Linked DNA regions of Homo sapiens. The protein of the gene in region 1 interacts with the protein of each later gene in a biochemical or structural test. Each region holds a gene or a part of one and is shown in the gene's direction. Other genes may lie near its edges.

Region 1 (3,500 bases):
TGTAACTAATATTTTCAAGTATACTAATATATTTTTTAATCCCTTACTATAATCTTTACTACAATCTTTTTACTACATGATCGCCCCACTTTTTTTTTTTTTTGGTTGCATATATTGGTATTTTTTAACTTTCATTCCTCATCTCAGTATTATCAAATATTTGCTGCTGTGTCAACCATAGCATTCAAGTGACATGTCTTAATAAGATATTGTTTCTGAATTTTAAATGATAGAAATCTGAATGATAACGTTCATTTTGCGTTGTATTCAACTTGGAAGAAAAGGATAGTTTTAAATTAGATTTCTAATAAATGCTACCTGATTAAGATAGTTTTTTTCAAAGCACATTCCAGGCATGTTGATTATAAAAACAATAGGAGACAAACATTTTCTATTTACATGCTGTATTTTTTAGATCCCTGAAGACATCAAAAACCTATTCAGTTTATGGATATACAGTCCTCCACTTCAATATTTTTGGCAATTTTGTTTCTCATTAAGCACTTTTGCTTAGATGTTGAGTCAAGCAGAGGAAAGACCAGAGACAGATATTTAGGGTAGCTTTCACTTAGCAGTGCCAGTAAAAGATGTAAGAGAGAGACTTAAAGTCATTTTTAAATTTAGTAGATCATATCATTGTAATCCAGTACTTCATATAATTGCAGATTTGTCCATTGAATAATTAATGAAGTTAAGGGATTGATTGGCAAACCTTGGTTATCAATGTAAATAACATTAACTAGAAATTGTAATTTGTACATAATTATGAAGACATAATTGACCCTCCATATCTGTGGGTTCCATATCTAGGGATTCATCCCATCGCAGTTTGAAAATATTCAGGGGGAAAAAGGAAAAAGGATGGTTGTCACTGTACTGAACATGTACAGACTTTTTTTTCTTGTCATTATTCCCTAAACAATATTATCTAATAACTATTTACATAGCATTTACATTGTATTAGGCATTATAAGTAATCTAGAGATGATTTAAAGCATACAGAAGCATGTGTATAGATTTTATGCAAATACTACACCATTTTACATAAGGGAATTGAGCATTAGTGGACTTTGATGTCCACAGGGGTCCTGAAACCAATTCCCTGAGGATACCAAGAGATGACTTTATGTATTTATGATGTGTGATTTTGTGTTTTAAAAAAGGATTGGGAAGTTCAGCCATGAATATACAAATGCTTTTGGAAAAACTCAAAGGAATTCCCCAGTTAGAAGGCCAGAAGGACATGATAACGTGGATACTTCAGGTAAACTAAAAAAGTAAAGTGATCATATCTTGGTTTAAATATTTAAGAATTCTCTGCTTGCCTCCAGTGTTAAACCACTGTACCATTGTAGACATTTACTACTGGTTTTCATAATCACTTATTTTTCATGTTAATAATTCTATTTTCCTATATTTTATTGTAGTTTTAAAAATAAACTAAGATTTATTCATTTTTTTTGTCGTTATTTAGTCAACTTTACTGAAAACCTACCATGTGCCATGCTCACTTATAGATTTCTAGATGGAACAAGGCAGACAAGGTGCTTACTATCATGGAACATATACTCCAGTTGAGGGACAGACATTAAACAAATAAATAAACAAAAATATCAGGGTAATTCAATAGATGAGTAAGGGGTTACTTTGGGTAATTAGGGAAGGCCTCTCTCAAAACACGACATTAGAGCTAAGACCTTAATGACATGGAGTCAGTCTTAGAAGAGTCTGGAAGAGTACTCCAGGAAGAGGGAACAGCAGTGCAAAAGCTCTGTGGTGGCCAGAAAGAAGGTCAGTATGGCTGGAACATAATGGGTGAGGGATGGAAAAGTGGGCAATGAGATCAGAGGGGTGGCCAGGGGCCGGATCTTGTAGGTCCTTATAAGTCAGCATAAAGTGATAATTTTTTAGGACAATGGGAAAATATTGGAGGATTTTAAGTGACCTAATCTATATTTGTACAAGATGGTATTGGCTGCTGTGGAGTAAATGGATTATGGGGGATAGGCATACAAGTAAGGAAACTGTTAGGAGACTGTTGCAGTAATCTTGATATGAAATAAGCATGACCTAGGCTAAGATGCAGATAGTAAGAATCTGAACTGATTAAGGTGCATGTCGAAGGTGTATGAAGATAAAATCTATAGTACTTGCTCATCAGTCTGATGGGAGAGATGAAGGAAATAAATCAAAGATGAGGCTGGGCATGGTGGCTAGCACCTGTAATCCCAGCACTTTGGGAGGCCAAGGCAGGCAGATCACCTGAGGTCAGGAGTTCGAGACCAGTCTGGCTAACATGGTGAAACCTCATCTCTGCTAAAAATACAAAAAATTAGCCAGGCATGGTGGGGCACACCTGTAGTCCTAGCTACTTGGGAGGCTGAGGCAGGAGAATTGCTTGAACCAGGGAGGTGGAGATTGCGGTGAGCCAAGATCGCACCACTGCACTCCAGCCTGGGTAACAGAACAAGAGTCTGTCTCAGAAAAAAGGAAATCAAAGATGACTCCTGGATTTGGTGCTTGAGCTATTGAGTAGATAGCATTGCCTTTGGAGACGAGTGAATTAAATAAGCAGGGGAGAGAGAGGCCAGGAATGTTACTTTAATGGAAAACCTCCACATAGAAACATAAAACCGGCCAGGCACGGTGGCTCACGCCTGTAATCCCAGCACTTTGGGAGGCGGAGGCGGGTGGATCACAAGATCAGTAGTTCAAGACCAGCCTGGCCAAGATGGTGAAACCCTGTCTCTACTAAAAATACAAAAAAAAAAAAAAAATTAGCTGGGCGTGGTGGCAGGCGTGGTGGCAGGCGCCTGTAATCCCAGCTACTCAGGAGGCTGAGGCAGGAGAATCGCCTGAACTCTGAGGGCGGAGGTTGCAGTGAGCCGAGATCGCACCACTGCACTCCAGCCTGGGCGACAGAGTGAAACTCTGTCTCAAAAAAAAAAAAAAAAAAACCTGAAGCCAGGATTATGGAGCTTCTGCACTCATTGCATTCATTAAGATATTCTGATGTTTTTAGGTAAGTATTGTTTTGATAATCAGAATATATAAAGTAGTTATTTTTCACATTCTTATCAATTGGAAATCTTGGTACTGATTTATACTTTTAAGAGGGCAGCTCTTCTTACCATTTTATTAGAAACAGTCCTTAAGCATGATGTAATATCATTATTGGCCTGGCGTGGTGGCTCACGCCTGTAATCCCAGCACTTTGGGAGACTGAGGCGGCGGGGTCACGAGGTCAGGAGATCGAGACCATCCTGGCTAACATGGTGAAACCCCGTCTCTACTAAAAATACAAAAAACATTAGCCAGGTGTGGTGGCGGGTACCTGTAGTCCCAGCTACTCAGGAGGCTGAGGCAGGAGAATGGCTTGAACCCGGGAGGTGGAGCTTGCAGTGAGCCGAGATAACACCACTGCACTCCAGCGTGGGCGACAAAGCGAGACTCCGTCTCAAAAAAAAAAAGATAGTGATATTATTAAAATTCTTCTTGAA
Region 2 (3,500 bases), on another chromosome or scaffold:
GCTACTTGGGAGGATTACCTGAGCCCAAGAGGTCAAGGCTGCAGTGAGCCCTGGTGGAGCCACTGAGCTCCAGCCTGGGTGACAGAGTGAGACCTTGTCTTTAAAAAAGTTACCAATTTTTCTTAATTTCTTAATTTAAAGACATTTTTATTAGTATTAGGAAGCTCTGGACCCTTGAGTATCTATGTGGGTTTTTTTTGTTTGTTTTTTGTTTTTTGTCTCGCTCTCTCACCCAGGCTGGAGTGCAGAGGCGCAATCTTGGCTCACTGAAGCCTCCGCCTCCGAGGTTCAAGTGATTCTCGTGCCTCAGCCTTCCAAGTAGCTGGGATTACAGACATGTGCTACCATGCCCGGCTAATTTTTGTATTTTTAGTAGAGATGGGGTTTCACCATGTTGGCCAGGCTGGGGCCTTAAACTCCTGACCTCAGGTGATCTGCCCACCTTGGCCACCCGAAGTGCTGAGGCATGAGCCACACCCAGCCGAGTATCTGTCTTTTTAATATTCTGTATGATATGAAGTAGAATGTATGAACAAAGCACTTCTGCATGTCATAGTATGATAGTTGTCTGGAAGAAAAGCACTTCTACAGTTGTTTGAGTTGCAATTTGAATGACTTTTTTTCATGGAACATTTTTTACTTGAAAATACAGACAAGCTGTGGTTATTCAGGTTTGAATATATGGCAGACATATTCTCAGAAGTAATGTAATAAGCTCGGTGTGGTGGCGGGCACCTGTAATCCCAGCTACTCGGGAGACTGAGGCAGGAGAATTGCTTGAACCTGGGAGGCAGAGGTTGCAGTGCGCCAAGATCGCACCATTGCACCCTAGCCTGGACAACAGAGCAAGACTCCATCTCAAAAAAAAAAAAAAAAAACAGTGGGGGGATCTAAGTGGGTTGTTAGGTTAAGGATAGCAACTGAAGATATTTGTTGCTGTTGATAAAATAACAGCTTCCTGATACTTACTTTTTGATGAGATTAGTGGGTAGTGTTACCTGTTGTGATTTTTTTGATAGTATATAATGGAATATGGCAACATTTGGAGGATCTGTAAACTCGAGTCACCCAATATTTTGCAGATGTCCCATGAATAATAATACAAAACCATGAATGGGTAAAACACGTATGTGAAGTGAACAGATTTTAATGTAACTGAGTACAAAAAGTTGACTAATAATTTCAGATTCTATATTGCAGCAAACCTTTAAAAGAACTACCATTTCTTCTTTGGTATAATATCAAAACAGAATAGCTACAGTCACCTGAAAAAGCTATTCAAATACTACTTTTTTTGCTGGGTGCAGTGGTTCATGCCTGTAATCCCAGCACTTTGGGAGGCCAAGGTGGGCAGATCACCTGAGGTCAGGAGTTCAAGACCAGCCTGGCCAACATGGTGAAACGTCGTCTCTACTAAAAATACAAAAATGAGCCAGGCGGGATGGCACGTGCCTGTAATCTCAGCTACCCCAGAGGCTGAGGCAGGAGAATTGCTTGAACCCAGGAGACGGAGGCTGCAGTAAGCTGAGATGGTGCCATTGCACTCCAGCCTGGGCAACAGTGAGACTCTGTCTCAACAAAAAAAAAAAAAAAAAAGGAAGAAAGAAAGAAAGTACTCCTTTTTTCAAGTACATATTTGTGTGAGGCCAGATTTTCTTCATGTACTTAAACTAAACGGTATTGTAATAGATGGAGTGCAGAAGCAGATAAGAGAATCCAGCTATCTTCTGTTAAGCCAGTCATTAAAGAGACAGTTGCAAATATGTAAAACATTGCTTACACTTATCACCAACTTGGGGAGAAATATAATTTTAATTTATATTCTGTGTAATGGGTTTGCAGTTTAACCTACCTTTTTTTTTTGGAGACAGAGTCTTGCTCTTGTCACCCAGACTAGAGTGCAATGGCGCGATCTCTGCTCACAGCAACCTCCGCCTCCCAGGTTCAAGCAATTCTCTTGCCTCACCCTCCTGAGTAGCTGAGATTACAGGCACCCCCATACCCAGCTCATTTTTGTACTTTTAGTAGAGGTGGAGTTTGACCACGTTGGCCAGGCTAGTCTCAACTCCTGACCTCAGGTGATCCGCCCACCTTAGCCTCCCAAAGTGCTGGAATTACAGGCGTGAGCCACCCCACCTGGCTACAGTTATTTTTAATGAAGATTTTCTGAGTTAAAGTTTTTTTGTGTGTGTGAGACGGAGTCTTGCTTTGTCACCCATGCCAGAGCATAGCGGCATGATCTGGGCTCACTGCAACCTCCACCTCCTGGGAGGGTCCTTTGCCATGTGGTAGTCAGACCCTCTCAAAATCCTTTAACCAACTCCCATTCTAAGCTATAATAAACTATTTGTAGTTCTTCAAATATGCATTTTAAATCTTGGTAGCTAGGGCCTAGTTGCCTTCCAAAAATATGACAGTTAACACTCCCACCAATAGCAACATGAATGTGCTTGTTCCCCAACCGCTTGCCAATGCTGCGTGTTACCATTCTAACATAAATAGAGTATATTTAGGATGTTTTGTATGCCGAACCAACGTTGACATACTAACTTTTATGTGGTTGTACAAAAACCAGTATGCAGTTGAGAACTGATGAAGAGATTAAAAAGTCGTGCTTGTCTTTACTATAATTATTTTGTTTTCTCTCTAGGTACTTTTAAACTAGTAATAGAATTTTCTGAAGAATATCCAAATAAACCACCAACTGTTAGGTTTTTATCCAAAATGTTTCATCCAAATGGTAAGTAGCATTTTATAGATTTTGCAGATGATAGTGGGGAAAAGAGTTGTTTCCCTCCTTTTAGCTCTTTCACCTTACTTTTTACTGTTAGGGCTCACTTGTAGGTGTTGCTTCCATGTCCATGTGAGCCACGTATTTTGTTGTGGATTTTTTTTTTTTTTTTTTTTTTTTTTTTTGAGACGGAGTCTCGCTCTGTCGCCCAGGCTGGAGTGCAGTGGCGCGATCTCGGCTCACTGCAAGCTCCGCCTCCCGGGTTCACGCCATTCTCCTGCCTCAGCCTTGTGAGTAGCTGGGACTACAGGCGTCCACCACCACGCCTGGCTAATTTTTTATATTTTTAGTAGAGACGGGGTTTCACCATGTTAGCCAGGATGGTCTCGATCTCCTGACCTTGTGATCTGCCCACCTTGGCCTCCCAAAGTGCTGGGTTTGTTGTGGATTTTTGGTTTGTTTCTTATTTCTTCAGAGACAAAGTTATACTCTGTCACCCCTGCTGGAGTGCAGTGGTACAGTCACAGTTCACTGTTACCTCAAACTCCTGGGTTCAAGTAATCCTCCTGCCTCAGACTCCTAACTAGCTGGGACGACAGGTGTGGACCACCATGCCCAGCTAATTTTTTTGTTTGTTTTCTTTTTCTTTTTTGTAGACACAAAGTCTCTGTGTGTTGCCCAGGCTGGTCCTTGAACTCCTAGCCTCAAGCAGTCCTCCCACTTTGACCTCCCAAAGCACTGTGATTACAGGAATGGGCCATTTTTTCCA

What was found. The genes of interacting proteins can lie anywhere in the genome.
Region 2: the proteins of UBR1 (region 1) and UBE2B form a complex in vitro, tested with the Homo sapiens proteins (2 studies listed by BioGRID and IntAct, with this or other methods).

What each region holds. Positions count from the first base shown.
Region 1 is NC_000015.10:43,019,039-43,022,538, reverse strand, and holds part of UBR1 (E3 ubiquitin-protein ligase UBR1), read left to right. Parts: intron 1-1,163; coding exon 1,164-1,264; intron 1,265-3,500. UniProt on the Homo sapiens protein: E3 ubiquitin-protein ligase which is a component of the N-end rule pathway. Recognizes and binds proteins bearing specific N-terminal residues that are destabilizing according to the N-end rule, leading to their ubiquitination and subsequent degradation.
Region 2 is NC_000005.10:134,378,069-134,381,568, forward strand, and holds part of UBE2B (ubiquitin-conjugating enzyme E2 B), read left to right. Parts: intron 1-2,650; coding exon 2,651-2,740; intron 2,741-3,500. UniProt on the Homo sapiens protein: E2 ubiquitin-conjugating enzyme that accepts ubiquitin from the ubiquitin-activating enzyme E1 and transfers it to a E3 ubiquitin-protein ligase. In vitro catalyzes 'Lys-11'-, as well as 'Lys-48'- and 'Lys-63'-linked polyubiquitination.